Regions from separate parts of the Homo sapiens genome. Here region 1 is linked to region 2. Evidence: fine-mapped expression QTL. Tissue or cell type: lung. Region 2 holds a variant in brackets; the other region holds the start of a gene. All regions are shown on one strand. Distances are between the middles of the regions.

Region 1 (8,004 bases), 87 kb before region 2:
TAGGCCAGGGCTGGGCACAGTGGCTCAAGGCTGTAATCCCAGCACTTTGGGAGACTGAGGTGGGTGGATCACTTGAGGTCAGGAGTTCAAGACCAGCCTGGCCAACATGGTGAAACCCATCTCTACTAAAAATACAAAAAACTAGCCAGGCATGGTGGTGCATGCCTGTAATCCCAGCTACCTGGGAGGCTGAGACAGGAGAATCACATGAACCCAGGAGGGGGAGGTTGCAGTGAACCAAGATTATACCATTGCACCCCAGCCTGGGTGACAGAGCAAGACTTCGTCTCAAAAAAAAAAAAAAAAAGGACAGGTGTGGTGGCTCACACCTGTAATCCTGATACTTTGGGAGGCCGAGGCAGCAGGATCACTGGAGCCCAGGAGGTCGAGGCTGCAGTGAGCCATGATCTTGCCACTATACTCCAGCCTGGGCAATAAAGCGAGACCCTGTCTCAAAAAAGAAAACAGATAAAAATATAAAACATAAACTTTATTTTTCAACATAAGCTCCATCAAGTTTAAGACACTTTCGTAAGCAATGACGCCAGCCACTTAGTCCATTGCAAAATAACTGATGGTCCTGGATATTTAATCATGTTAATGCAGTCTGTTTCTTAACTAAAGAAAAATGGGTGCCCTTTAAAGTTTTTTTTTTTTTTTAAAGATTAGGAAACAGGAAGTCAGAAGAAGCAAAATTAGACCTCCTAAGGTAGATGCCTAATGATTTACCATCAAAATTCAAAATTTTCCTTGTTTTATGAGAGGAATGAGCAGGAGCATTGTCTTAGTGGAGAAGCAATCTCTGGTGAAGCTTACCTGGGCATTTTTCTGCTAAAACTTTGGCTGTCTCTAAACATTCTCATATTTTTTTTTTCTTTTTGTAGAGATAGGTCTTGCTATGTTGCCCAGACTGGTCTTGAACTCCTGGCCTCAATGGATCCTCCTGCCTTGGCCACCAAAAGTGCTGAGACTACAGGCATAAGCCACTGTACCCAGCCTCATAACACCTTTATAATAAGCAGACGTTATTGTTCTTTGGCTCTCCAGAAAGTCAACAAGAAAAATGCTTTGAGCATCCCAAAAAATAGTTGCCATGACCTTGCTTTTGACTAGTCCACTTTTATTTTGACTGGACCACTTCCACCTCTTGGTAGCTATTGCTCTGTTTGTGCTTTGTTTTCGGGATTATTCTGGTAAAGCCATGTTTCATCTCCTGTTACAATTCTTGGAAGAAATCCTTCAGGATCTTGATCCCACTTGTTTAAAATTTTTATTGAAAGACAACTGAAATTTTAAGTAGAAAACCCACCAGGAGAACAAAAGTACTCTTGTCTGTAGCTGATCTGGGTGCAATAGTTTCGGTACCCATCAAGTGGAAAGTTTGCTCAAGTTTAATTTTTCTGTCAGCATTGTGTAAGCTGAACCAACTGAGACATCTATGATGTTGGATATTGTATTAGTCCATTCTCACACTGCTATAAAGAACTACATGAGGTCGGGCGTGGTGGCTCACACCTGTAATCCCAGCACTTTGGGAGGCCAAGACAGGTGGATCACCTGAGATCAGGAGTTCGAGACAAACCTGGCCAACATGGTGAAACCCCATATCTACTAAAAATACAAAAATTTGCTGGGCATGATGACAAACACCTGTAATCCCTGCTACTCACAAGGCTGAGGCAGGAGAATCACTTGAACCTGGGAGGCGGAGCTTGCAGTGAACCGAGAGAGCACCACTGCATTCCAGTCTGGGTGACAAGAGTGAAACTCTGTCCTCCCAAAAAAGAATTACCTGAGAGTGCGTACTGTATAAAGAAAAGAAGCTTGACTCAGTTCCACAGGCTCTACAGGAAGCATGGCTGGGAGGCTCAGGAAACTTAAAATCATGGGAGAAGGGGAAGAAAGCACATCTTCACATGGCCAGCAGGAGACAGCAAGTGAAGAGGGAGGTGCTACACACTTTCAAACAACCAGATCTTGTGAGAACTCTATCATGGGACAGCACTAGGGCGATGGTGCTAAACCATCAGAAGCCATGCACATGATCCAATCATCTCCCTCCATGTCCCTCCTCCAACACTTCCTGTCATTACACTTCTGCATGAGATTTGGGTGGGGACACACAGCCAAACCATATTAGATATTGTCTGTGCTTTTTTTCTTCACAAATTGCTGTGAATGGTCTGCTGCTACGGGCTTCATCTTCAACATTGTCTCATCTCTTAAAATGAGTTATCCATTTGTAAACTGCAGATCTCCTTGGGGTATTGTCTCCATAACCTTTATGTGAAGCATCAATGATTTCACCATTCTTCCACCCAAACCTCACCATAAATTTGATGTGTGTTCTTCCTTCAATTTTAGCAGAATTTATGTTTCTCTGATAAAAGAGCTCTTTTCTAAATGTCTTATCATAGTTAGTGTCCCTCACTAGATCCTGTTCAGACATGTTACAAAAAGTTTATTCTGGTGCAAAAAAAAAATTGAAATTCATACACACTTTTTTATAATACATATTTTCCATGAAAATTTAGAAGAACACTTATATAGATGAATGATAGATTATCAAAGTTTTCCTAGATTTGTCAGGCTTTGTTCTTCACGGTTTTCAAATGAAAGGGCCTGGAGAAACCGAAGAACTAAAAGGGTTGCAGAAAGAGTCCTAAGGGGAAAGAAAAACTGATATACTCACATCTTCGACCTAGGCAACAAAAGTTATGAGTCAAGATATTTGGTCACATAACTAAAGATAACTTAGGTTTTATGACATTTTTGTTTTTTGTTTTGTTTTTGTCAGTTAAAATAGGGAAATTTTAACTGAAATATCAATGAACAGTCCCATTCCCTATCCTCACCATTGGTACAGCGGATCTTGTTTTTCTTAATGTGGTACATATTAATAAAATTTATGAGACCTAAGGTCTACTGCATTTGAAAGATTAACCGACATAAATGGTATACTTTTATAAAACTCGTTAAAATGACAAAAAGGTTTCACATTTTTGAGGAACAAATGATCTAAAATACTTAATACAAATTGGCATTACCTTGAACACATTGCATCATGATTACATGAAAGAGCTGCTGAAATGGTCATGTGTTCAGAGACTACTACATCTGTAGGCTTAATAGTAAACGTTTGGTTGGTTGGTTGGTCGGCTGGTTGGTTTGCTGCTTAGCATCAGGACACCCACCCCTTGTGTGGGAAATATACAAGTGTGTGAGTCTATGGGTTGAAATCCAAAAAGCCTGATGCTTTTTCTCATTCCTGGCAACCAAGGGATATGACCAAATTGGGTCAATTGAATGCCCTTGCCCCTAACTGTGAACAGAGAGTAGTGTTACAAACAAGGAATAAAAGATTAGAATCAATGCCAGTGTCTTTCCATTGCCCCATCGTGTCAGGGTCCAAGTGTCCAGTAGCTGTGGTCCCTTAACCAGCCTGTACCTTTGGCCGTGGCACCAGCTACCTACTTTCCCTATGTCCCCAAGTTATCTGGTAACCATTCAGGAATTTTTTTTCCTACTTAGGTATACAAAAAACAGTGTCAGTTTTTGCTTGACAGATTAAATCATCCTTCAGAGATGCAGGAAAACTATTAGCAGCCAAGGGATGCTGCCAAGGCCAGTGTCTGGGCTCTGCAGTTTTCTAACTTGTGATATTGGGTCACCCCACTAAGCTCCAGGAGAGCAGCGACTGCATCTGGCTTAATCATTATGGGATGGCCAGCTCCCAATTCCATGCCCTAGGCAAAGAGACATTCAGTGAATATTGATTTGACTTCGACTTGATTGAACAAAATGGTAACACTGAACTCTAGGTTTCCTCAGTGTCTGTTACAGATTTCTTGATCCTGACTGCTTTTAATTTTTTTTTTTTTAGCAAGAAATAACTAACGAATGATGACACTAAGCTTTAAATTCAAGTAAATAGGAGGCTTTTTTTTTTCGCATAAGCAGAAATGAGGAAATCAAGAGGAAGAGATTAGATTTCTGTTGTGATAAATCGAATCTGTTAAATGCCATGACTTTTTAATTGTCTTAATCACAAGTTAAACCGGTTGTGTTGCTGCTTAGATGGCTATATATTTGTTTAAAAGTACAGCAGTCCCTCCTACTGGACTTTGATCCTACAAAAACAACTGTTATCTAACTCACCCTCAGACTGTCACTGGAACACCTGCATGAAGAATGTTCTTTCATTTTTTAAAAACGATTTTGCATATATGATTTATTTCAGCTTTCAAAATGATTAGAAAACTTTTTATTGTTCTACTTTTGTTGCTTGTGACTATAGAAGAAGCAAGGATGTCATCGCTCAGTTTTCTGAATATAGAGAAGACTGAAATACTATTTTTCACAAAGACTGAAGAAACCATCCTTGTAAGTTCAAGCTACGAAAATAAACGGCCTAATTCCAGCCACCTCTTTGTGAAAATAGAAGATCCTAAAATACTACAAATGGTGAATGTGGCCAAGAAGATCTCATCAGATGCTACAAACTTTACCATAAATCTGGTGACTGATGAAGAAGGAGAAACAAATGTGACTATTCAACTCTGGGATTCTGAAGGTAGGCAAGAAAGACTCATTGAAGAAATCAAGAATGTGAAAGTCAAAGTGCTCAAACAAAAAGACAGTCTACTCCAGGCACCAATGCATATTGATAGAAATATCCTAATGCTTATTTTACCACTAATACTATTGAATAAGTGTGCATTTGGTTGTAAGATTGAATTACAGCTGTTTCAAACAGTATGGAAGAGACCTTTGCCAGTAATTCTTGGGGCAGTTACACAGTTTTTTCTGATGCCATTTTGCGGGTTTCTTTTGTCTCAGATTGTGGCATTGCCTGAGGCGCAAGCTTTTGGAGTTGTAATGACCTGCACGTGCCCAGGAGGGGGTGGGGGCTATCTCTTTGCTCTGCTTCTAGATGGAGATTTCACATTGGCCATTTTGATGACTTGCACATCAACATTATTGGCTCTGATCATGATGCCTGTCAATTCTTATATATACAGTAGGATATTAGGGTTGTCAGGTACATTCCATATTCCTGTTTCTAAAATTGTGTCAACACTCCTTTTCATACTTGTGCCAGTATCAATTGGAATAGTCATCAAGCATAGAATACCTGAAAAAGCAAGCTTCTTAGAGAGAATAATTAGACCTCTGAGTTTTATTTTAATGTTCGTAGGAATTTATTTGACTTTCACAGTGGGATTAGTGTTCTTAAAAACAGATAATCTAGAGGTGATTCTGTTGGGTCTCTTAGTTCCTGCTTTGGGTTTGCTGTTTGGGTACTCCTTTGCTAAAGTTTGTACGCTGCCTCTTCCTGTTTGTAAAACTGTTGCTATTGAAAGTGGGATGTTAAATAGTTTCTTAGCTCTTGCCGTTATTCAGCTGTCTTTTCCACAGTCCAAGGCCAATTTAGCTTCTGTGGCTCCTTTTACAGTAGCCATGTGTTCTGGATGTGAAATGTTACTGATCATTCTAGTTTACAAGGCTAAGAAAAGATGTATCTTTTTCTTACAAGATAAAAGGAAAAGAAATTTCCTAATCTAACAATTAAAGCATTACTGAATTCCTACTCTGGGTAGGGCACTGTGGGAGAGTAAAAGAATAACTATAATGATACCTGCTCTTAAGCCACTTATAATGTAATTAAAAATCTGACATTGGGGGGTAGAGAATACATATATATATATACACACACACACACACACACACACACACATTCGTATATGCTAAGTACTCAATGAGTGGTGGAGATGATAATACAGAAGTTCAGAGGAAGGAGACAACTTTGCAACTGTGTTGGTTTGAGAATGTTTTATAGGCTATGATGTCAATATGATACTTTCAGTGGTCTCCTAAATGAGACAGAGCAATAGAAAACTTATTTAGTGATTATGATATATCCTAAGTATTAAAAGAAGGAACACCCAGATAGCAGACATTTGACAAATTCTCACTCGGTGAATGAATTTGTAAATTTCATTAGCACATCAAAATAAGTATGTTTTAAAGTAAATGTGGCATCTCTGCCCTCAGAGCTAAGCTTTCTCCTGTCTTCCATGTTAACCCACCAAAGGCATTACTGTTTACCCCACAACACAGGGTCAGCTCTTCAACCTCATCTCTCTTCTGTCTTCTTTCTTTCTTTCTTTATAGTGAATGTATTTCCTACAGAAACAGCCTGTAATTCAATTGCCAGTGCTCTTCTCAATTCTCAGTGCTATCACTTTTTTCTGCACTATATTGCTTCTTCCCTAAACCTTTCTAAATTGGCTTCTGGCCTGTCTCTCCACCCTCTACTCACTGTCAGATTAATTTTCCTAAAATCTAACATTGACCATATAATTTCCCAGCAATGAAGACTTTTTGCTTTTTAAATGAATTTGTATTTCTTAATGAGGCATTTATTATACTCTACTGTCTGACCTTAACCTAGCTTCCCAGTTTTATTTATTATTATTATTTTTTTTTTTTTTTTGAGAAGGAGTCTCACTTTGTCACACAGTCTGGAGTGCAGTGGTGTGATCTCGGCTCACTGCAACCTCCGCCTCCCAGGTTCAAGTGATTCTCCTGCCTCAGCCTCACCAGTAGCTGGGATTACAGGCGCCTGCCACCACTCCCAGCTAATTTTTGTGTTTTTAGTAGAAACGGGGTTTCACCATCTTGGCCAGGTTGGTCTTGAACTCCTGACCTTGTGATTCATGTGCCTCAGCCTCCCAGAGTGCTAGGATTACAGGCTTGAGCCACCACGCCCAGCCAGTTTCCCAGTTTCATTATATCTCCTCTCTCACCTCGTTACACATAGTCTTTTACCCAAACAGAATGACTTAGTATGTTATGAGTATTGTTCATTCCAGCTAACCTGGCTTGTTTTATGACTATTTGTGTCCTGTTTTAATTTTCCTATTTTGCTCTAAGTCTTTGAGCATAATAACTATGTTTATTCATTTTGATATTCCCTATCACATCTAACACAGTATCTTCTGTGTGCTTATTCAAATAATGTGTTGAAGCACAGACTAGTGTCCAAATAAATAGTGTGCTTTTCAAAAACCTCCTTTTAATCTTCAGTGAAAATTTTTATTATCTAGGGCAAGTCTACGATCTTGTGCAAGAAAGTGTGGGATCGAGAATAGGAAATATCACTCTAAATAATCCTGCTTTCCCTATTTCCTAGCCTTATGGCAAATTCTTTGATCTTCTTATAGTCCAGTTTTCTCATTTAACAAATGAAGCTAATGGTGTCAACTCCATAGATTGTCCTAGGAATTAAGTGAGAGTATACATGTAATGTGCTTGGAAGAGTGCCTGGGACATAGTAAGTGCTATTGTTTTATCAGTTTTAACTTTCAACCCTGGTAGATCTGCTGCTAGTTTGAAATAGCAATCGTATAACTATGTATGGAGCCTAAAACTTTCAACATTTTCTATCAGTACTATTCACCATCTTGATCATAGAATTAGAGAATTTTTGTTTACTTTGCCAGTTGATAAGATAACCAAGGTTCTTTTTTCTTTAAATGCCACCAAATCCAGTATATGACTACCAAAATTTGTATAAAATCTGATATAAACCAAATAGACATGATAGATGTTTATTTGGTTTATAAAGTGATAATTGTGTATGTAGAATATTTTACTCCTTTAAACTGAAATATCCACTATAGGTTTAAAATAGAATTACATTTGTACAAATTTAACTTACATAATGTTTTGGGTTTTTTGTTTGTTTGTTTGTTTTGTTTTGTTTTTCTGAGACAGAGTTTTGCTCTTGTTGCCCAGGCTGGAGTGCAATGGTGCGATCTTGGCTCACCACAACCTCCACCTCCCAGGTTCAAGCGATTCCTGCCTCAGTCTCCTGAGTAGCTGGGACAACAGGCATGCGCCACCATACCCGGCTAATTTTGTATTTTTAGTAGAGATGGGGTTTCTCCATGTTGGTCAGGCTGGTCTCAAACGCCCAACCTCAGGTGATCCGCCCACCTC
Region 2 (8,250 bases):
ATTGCACTTCGGTTATCATTTTCTTCTTCAGAGACACCAATATGAATATTCCATCTCCTTGTGTCTTCCATTTCAGCTGCTTTCTCTCAGTCTCTTTTTCTTTTATTGCTTTTCCTGATTTTCTTTAAGTTTTCTTTTGCATCTGTGCCCTTTTGGGCACCTTGTAATTTATTCTTCATTTTGTCCCCATTTCTTTCCTGAGTTCACTTATCCTGTTTTTTTTTAAAAAAATTTTGTTTCATTTCTGCTTTCAGTCTCTATTTCAGATTTAACAATTTTTTTTCATATTCACAACCACAAGTATTTGAGGCCATTTAACTCAGATTGTATTGATGTTTCAGTTTTCTTCTGCTTCATTATTGTTTTTTATTTTAAAAGACAGAATGTTGTTATTTTCTTTTGTTGTGTTACAGCAGCAATTTAAAAAAAATTTAAGTTACGGGATACATTTGCTGAATGTTCAGGTTTGTTAACATAGGTATACATGTGCCATGGTGATTTCCTGCACCTGTCATCTAGGTTTTAAGCCCCGCATGCATTAGGTGTTTGTCCTAATGCTCTCCCTCCCCTTATCCCCCACTCCCTGACAGGCCCCAGTGTGTGATATTCCCCTCCCTTGTCCATGTGTTCTCACTGTTCACAATGTTGGTTTTCTGGAGAGACTTCAAACAAAAAGAAACCCATTTTTATTAGCAATGTCTGATGTTTTGCAGGCTTGTGGGGATGTGCTCTACTTTTTTCTATTTTGATTCATTTTGTTATCAGGGCTCCTTGGTTCAGAGCTCTGTATTTTGTCAGTTCTGCCCTTCTGTGTAGTTTCCTTTATGATATCTTTTGAGTGGTTGTGGTAGGCAGGGTTGGCTTGTCTTGCTTATCATTGATTTCTGCAGGATCCTTAATTTTTCAATCTTAGTCCCAACTTTTCTTTGAATACTTGGTCTCCAAGAGGTACCACCTCTTCTGTCTTATCTGATTCTCCTCCAAAATCACAGTTTCCCCGAGGTAGCTGGACTGTGAATTACCAAGGGCTGATCTGTGCTCAGTGTCTTTGCATTTATTGTCTCACTTATACTCGTTTCTGAGGGTGGTTTTTTCTGTGTTCCCTGTGGGTCCTTGGCTCCTCCCTGCTCTCCCTCACAAAGTCTTTTCTGCCTCTTCTCCTCCACTCCGTGTATCCACAGGCTAGGAATGCTGTGTTAGAATTAGTTTGTTTGCTCTTTCTTCTGCTTACAGGTAGTTTGAGATTTGTATTTTCCGATTCCTAGAAATGCTGAAGGAATAGGTCTTGTGTGTTTTATTTGTCCTCCTTTTTGATTTTATTTAATTTTATTTTTCAGGTGGGTAATGGGGAGTTTCAAAATCAGCATGCCACTATTCCTTTCTAAACCTCAGAGTCCTTCTGTAATCAGTTTCATAAATGAAGAAATTAAAAGCAAATATCTATCCTTACTTTTATGTTTACATTTTCAAGAAAAGCTAGAGTTTTGAAGTCTTTAATATAGTTATGCTATATTAAATAGAATTTCTGACCTTTATTGTAGTTGTTTGCATTAAAAATCATAAATTTTGTTATTCAACAAAATCTGTTAAGTTTTGAATAACAGATATTTTACTGCCTACTGTTTCTACCTTTTTTCCTTTTGAAAATATCATCACTGAGTTATAAGAGTCTTAAACCTGATCAAAGATCATCTAATAATCCAGCCTTTTTTTGTAGGTGAGTCGACTGAGGCTCAGAGAGGTGATGTGGTTGCCTTAGATCGAACAGCTGGGTGGAAATATGACTAGAATCCTGGCTCCCAGATCATTTATCTTTCTCCAATATTGGACTTCTCTTAGGAGTCGGGACCTTAAAAATATAGTTTGGCCATGTACAAACTAATTTTATACTATACATCTTTGTTCTATATAGTAATGAGTAAAGCAAAAGAGAGAGAGCCTCTGTCAAATAGCTACAGAACCTCCCAGAATGATGTCCTTGAGGGAAGGGCAATAAACTTATTGCTACAGTGTGCTGTCTTGAAGCAAGGACTGTAACCATGGGCTATAAAATGGTTATGTTAGTCATAAAAGAGCTGCAAGAGGTTTACAATTTTAACCTTTAATTTTGCTGTTGGATAAAGTAAAAACTAATTTTTACTTCAGGATTTTTTCAGAAGTGTAACCAGGGAAATATTACCAAGGAGAAGTTCTGACATTGATTTAAGATCTTTTGCATTCAGCTGCTTCTTTAGTTTAGCAATGTGATTTCAGAGTTACTTATACAAAACAATGAAACTAAAGGGAGTCATAATCTGAATGAATGCTTTAAACAAGCAGAAACAGTCTAATAGGTTCCTGACTAGGAACAAATATTTTTAAGACAACAATTATTGTGGCTCAATTTCCTTTAATTTTTCAAAATTTAATTAGATGAAATGTACCTGGTATATATTTTCTGGCATCATCTTTTGAGAATAATTTTGTCATAAACATAGCTACTTTTTATTATGTATCTTTTATATGGCAGGCACTCTTTTGGTGCTTTACAAATATTATTTGTAGTTATTGTAACAGTGATCTAAGGCAAATTGGTATCCCTATTTGATGACAAGAAAGCTAAAACTCAAAGAAGAAACTTGGTCCAGATTTGTTTTTTTGTTTTTTGTGATGGAGTTTCACTCTTGTTGCTCAGGCTGGAGTGCAGTGGTGTGATCTCGGCTCACTGCAACCTCCACCTCCTGGGTTCAAGCAATTCTCCTGCCTCAGCCTCCCAAGTAGCTGGGATTACAGGCATGTGCCACCACACTAGGCTAATTTTGTATTTTTAGTAGAGACAGGGTTTCACCATGTTGGCCAGGCTGATCTCAAACACCTGACCTCAGGTGATCCACTCTCCTTGGCCTCCCAAAGTGCTGGGATTACAGGCATAAGCCACCATGCCTGGCCCAGATTAGGGTTTTTAAGCAGCTGAGCATGGAACAAACTCAACTCTTTGTGACCCCAAACATAGGCTTTTTTATGATATACCCTATTAGCTGTATAGGAGGATCAGATTAAGATAGGATTCAGAAGGCACATTGTAGAATCTATACCATAGCCTTAATTACCTGGTAATATAAGTAATCTCTTTGGTAATATTTGCTCACAAAATATATGCTCTAGCTGACTACAAGACTCCTTGCCTGAGATCCCATGATGTGCATTAGAAGTGATGGAAGCACCACTAGTTGCTATCACTGTTGTTCTGCTAGCCTAGGATTCTCTGAATAGAATACTAAGGGATTACTTGTAGAAGATCTTGGTCTTTGCTTTCTATAATATGAGATATCAGCTATCACATATCTCATATGAAAAGGGGAGAAACACATCTTTCTTTATAACTGAAAAAATGCCACAAAAGCTAATTTGATTTCATGCATTTGGGAAACAAACATCTTGGAAATTTATTGCACCTCCTAGTTCTTTCTTAAATTAGATGTGCAGCAAAAACATAGGCAGGAAAAAATTCCAAATCAAAGACATTATATCATTCTAATCCTTTTTTTAAAAAGTCCCTTTGAGATGAAGGATGTACTTAGGTGCAATATTTTTTACAATACAATACAAAATAAATACCACATTTGTAATCAATTTATCATTACTTTTTAAAAAAATAAACTGGGAAAGATCTTGGTAAATAGAACCCACTGCTTTATTTCCAGAGCTTTAAACAGTCACAAAAGGAGTTTGAATAGAAACCATTTGCAATTAACTTGCAGACATAATGATCTTTTTCTTCTAAAAACACATTTCAGTGTGTATTTCTTTAATAAAAAGGAACATTGTCTAACACAGCCACAGCACAATTATAAAAGTCAGGAAATTAACATTGATACATAATCTAATATAAAGACTTTATTCAAATTTTGAAAAAAATTTTAACCCAATGTCCAATCCAGACTCATACATTGATTGCATTTAGTTCTCATTTCTCTTCAGTTTCCTTTAATTTATAACTTGCTTGGTCTTTCTTTATCTTTTATGACCTTGACATTTTTCAAAAGTATAGGCCAATTATTTCGTGGTCTATCTCTTGATTTGAATTTGTCTAGTTTATTTATGATTACATTTGGATTATGAATTTTTGGCAGGAATGTCACAGAAGTAATGTTCTGTACTTCTCAGTGCATCATATCAGGAGGCACATGGTATCTTTTTGTCCTATTATGGGTGATATTAACTTTGATTACTTGGTAATGGTAGATAGATCATTGTAAAAATGCTATTTTTTCCTCACTGTACTTATTATATATCTTGTGGAGAGATACTTTGATACCAAAAATATCAAACTTTTACCCATTAATTTTAACATTTATTGATGATTTTTTTTTTTGAGATGGAGTCTTGCTCTGTTGCCCAGGCTGGAGTGTAGTGGCTCGATCTTGGCTCACTGCAAGCTCTGCCTCCCAGGTTCACGCCATTCTTCTGCCTCAGCCTCCTGAGTAGCTGGGACTACAGGTGCCCGCAACAACGCCTGGCTAATTCTTTTTAATATAT[A/G]TTTTTAGTAGAGATGGGGTTTCACCGTGTTAGCCAGGATGGTCTCGGTCTCCTGACCTTGTGATCTGCCCACCTTGGCCTCCCAAAGTGCTGGGATTACAGGTGTGAGCCACCACGCCCGGCTGATGATTCTTTACTGAATAAGTTATTACTATAATTGCTATCAAGTAGTATCTTACTTATTCTTACTTATATCTTACACATTCATCTTACCTTGCTGTATTTTCAAGGAAGAGGTGCTATGAGAGGAAAAACCTGTAGTAATCTTTCAAGAGAGGCCTAGGTTTGTGCAGAACCCAGGTGGGTTGCAATCCCTTTAGGTCTAGATATGATGCACATCCAGTTGGGAATGATCAATATCATGATACTTTATGCTCCCTAGAGATTATTGTGCATTGTGTATGTGTGCATGTGTGTGTGTATCTGTGTAAAATAAGCTGTGGTTGCCTTGGGTTTAAAAAAATATGAATATATTTGCATGCTGTTATAGTAGAATTATAGCATTATTTTTAGGGCTTTTTTTCTGCAAAATTATTGCTTTCATGTTTATCTTATTAAATTATTGCTTTGTGAGGATTAGTTTTGGGATTTATATAGTATATCACGATAACTGGATTTTATATATTTTTATTTTAAGATTAAATACCATCTTTTTTTACATTTATTCTCTAGATTGGTTCAACTTATCTCAATCAACATTCAAACTGAAGTTAGGAGGAATACCTTACTTGAAAGGTTATTTTTTCAATCTGCCATTTTTGAATACTATTTTTGAGGATCCAGAGTGTTGGAACAGCAGCTACTAATATGTGCATTGCGGCAAGTGGAGGAGCAGAGGCATTTTATGAAATGGGAATTCACTGCTGGGATATTGCAGTAGCTGCCATTATTGTTACTGAAGCTGGTGGCGTGCTAATGGATGTTACTGGTAAAATTATGAGATAGTGAATCATTTTTCCCTTTACATCTCTTGGACTTTCCTCTGTATATGGAGTTTAAAAAAAGTTTGATACATATGATAGCTTGGATTTTAAGACAAACAGGCTATATAATTTTGTGCAAAATCAAAATAAACATTAGGAGATAGAGGCAAGGATGAGAACTAATGGCAATATGGGACTGATAGTGATAAATGGCTAAGCCTTTTCAAATGTGAGTAATAGGAACTCCTGAAAGGCTGTTGAGAAAGCCTAGAGAGTCACTGACTCTGAGGCTTGTATTTAGAGTTCTTTGAATGCTGACCATTGTGATAGTTGATGATTGACTTCAGTCCTCCACCATCACCTTCTGTGTTGGGACTAGAGAAGTTAAATATTTGCTTTGAGCTGATGGTGAAATTTTTGAAGTGAAGAGTGAACCTGGGTTCAAAGAATTCACCAGTGATCTGAGAGAAAGGCAACAAAGAAATAAGGAAATGGGAAGGATAGTGGTATGAAAATTAATTGGAGTCACATTTTCTGTCCATAGATTCTTAAACAGTAAAGAGGTAATAACAGTGTATATACACACACACACACACAAACAAAGAAATAGAGAATAGATGACATTTTCAGACTAGCATGACTTGAGACTCCCTCTCTCCCCCACCAACCTTGCCAGTAAATACCAAAAAACTGGTATTTTAAAAAACATATACTTAGAAACTCAGCTATGGATTGCCAAAGCTTAAACATTGTAGTTATGTGACAGTAGATTTTTAAAAGAAAACTGAAAGTATTAAAATGTCGTGATTGACCATAGTGCACATTGCTGTACTTGTTTGATATAAATTATTTTTGTACCAGATATAACTATTTACCATACTTGATTTGTTTTAGGTGGACCATTCCATTTAATGTCACGGAGAATAATTGCTGCAAATTGTACAGCATTAGCAGAAAGGATAGCCAAAGAAATTCAGGTAGCACCTTTTCAATGAGATGATGAAGATTAATTACAGCAGCCTCATAGTCAATCACAGTTGCTTTTCCCCAGATTTGCTGACTCACTGTGGATACGTGTTTCAGATGTATTATATGCTTAGTTTAAATTGTCTTTGTCCAGATTAAGAATTTTGAACTTGTTTCATATTTTACTATGGCTAGGTTTGCAAGAATAGACATGATGTTTACTTCATTGTTTAAAAAAATTGCATGTAAGAGCTTTAGGAAAAATACACAAAAAGTATAGTTGATGAAATAAGTATAACATCAACTGAAATAGTTAGCAATTTTGCATTTCTGAGTATCAATGGTCTGAAATTTTGACTTGCTATATATATGTATGCCTAGACACTCGCTTAGAAAGTTACCTATTTGGAAAAAAAAATTGTTTGGTTTCAAAAGCCATATTTAAATTTGTAAGGATATATTGAGTACTTCCTAGACCAAGGTTTTTTTCTTTGCAGAGAAACTTTTTTGTTTTATTCAGTGCTCATATAACACCTAGCACCGTGCTTGTCAGTTAGCAATCAAAATTAAACATTGTAAGAATGAATATTTTGAAGTCATCAATTCCTAGTTATTATATAGAGTAGATACATAATGAGCTCACCATTCTGTACTTTTGCTGTATTTTTCATGATGATGTGAATTTTGAAGTAAAAACAGTCTAGTTATATTTTGTATATTTCACATTAACATACTGCCAGATAGAGTTGCTTATTGTAGGCATTTCTGCGATAAATATATTTTCCAAAGCACTTAGTTAAGGTATGTATTTTAATTTGCTTTAAACTCCCTAAGAGAGAAGAAACTGTTCCCAAAAAGCACTCTCATCAGATATCTGATATATTTAGATACAGTGTAACATTTTACTCATTTCAATAGTCACATTTCAAAGATGTTGATGCTGATTTATGTTGGCAAATTATGCATTATTATTAATATTCAACTATTTGGTTTCCTCCCAAATCCTTATATAATTTCATTGTAACTGGATTCCATTCAGCCTTTAAGTAAGAGAATAGATGACATTTTTCAGACAAGTATGACTTGCAATTTCCTCTGTCTCACACCAACCTGGCCAGTAAATACCAATAAATATCTTTTTTCTTTTTTTTTTTTTTTTGAGACAGGGTCTCACTCTGTTGCCCAGGCTGGAGTGCAGTGGCGCAATTTCAGCTCACCACAACCTCTGCCTCCTGGGTTCAAGTGATTCTCCTGCCTCAGCCTCCTGAGTAACTGGGACTACAGGTGTGCGCCACCATGCCCAGCTAATTTTTGTATTTTTAGTAGAGGTGGGGTTTCACTATGTTGGCCAGGCTGATCTCAAACTCCTGACCTCGTGATCCACCTGCCTCGGCCTCCCAAGGTGCTGGGATTACATGCATGAGCCACCACGCCCAGCCACCAATAAATATCTTAATCATCCTTGGCCAACAGAATGGATTTTTTTTAAAAAATGTGGTCTAATCACATGAAGAATGTTCTGTAGCAATGAAAAAATAGACTCCAGTTACACGCAATAATGTGGATGATTGCAATCTGGCTGAAGCTCTAACTTCCAATGGTTCTGCACATTTTGATATCACCAACGATATCCTAATAATTTACAGAAGCCAAATTGTTTCTGCTTTGAACTTAACCTCTCTTCAGTCCTTCCCCCTTGCTTGTTTTGTTTTAAAAAAAAATCCCATGTTGAAATGTTCTTTGTTCCTTTCTTTGTTTCTTTTGCTGACTTTTCTTCTCTGGTGATAATACAGTTCTGTAGAGTGCTCTCCTTGGTGGTTTACCTTCTGACTGTCAAGTCACT

Evidence for each region. PIP is the estimated chance that this variant, and not a neighbour inherited with it, causes the effect.
Region 1: SLC10A5 starts here. The variant in region 2 is the best candidate, but not a certain one, in a credible set for the expression of SLC10A5 in lung (TOPMed, PIP 0.90).

Annotation. Positions count from the first base shown.
Region 1 is chr8:81,691,217-81,699,220 of GRCh38, reverse strand. SLC10A5 (solute carrier family 10 member 5) reads left to right here and starts at 4,163. Exons shown (of 1, transcript NM_001010893.3): 1 at 4,163-5,590. The coding sequence starts at 4,249. The coding sequence ends at 5,565.
Region 2 is chr8:81,603,767-81,612,016 of GRCh38, reverse strand. It overlaps the pseudogene IMPA1P1. Among named protein-coding and RNA genes, the nearest start is that of FABP12, 74 kb to the right of the region's middle. The variant A/G (reference allele first, on the strand shown) is at 4,519.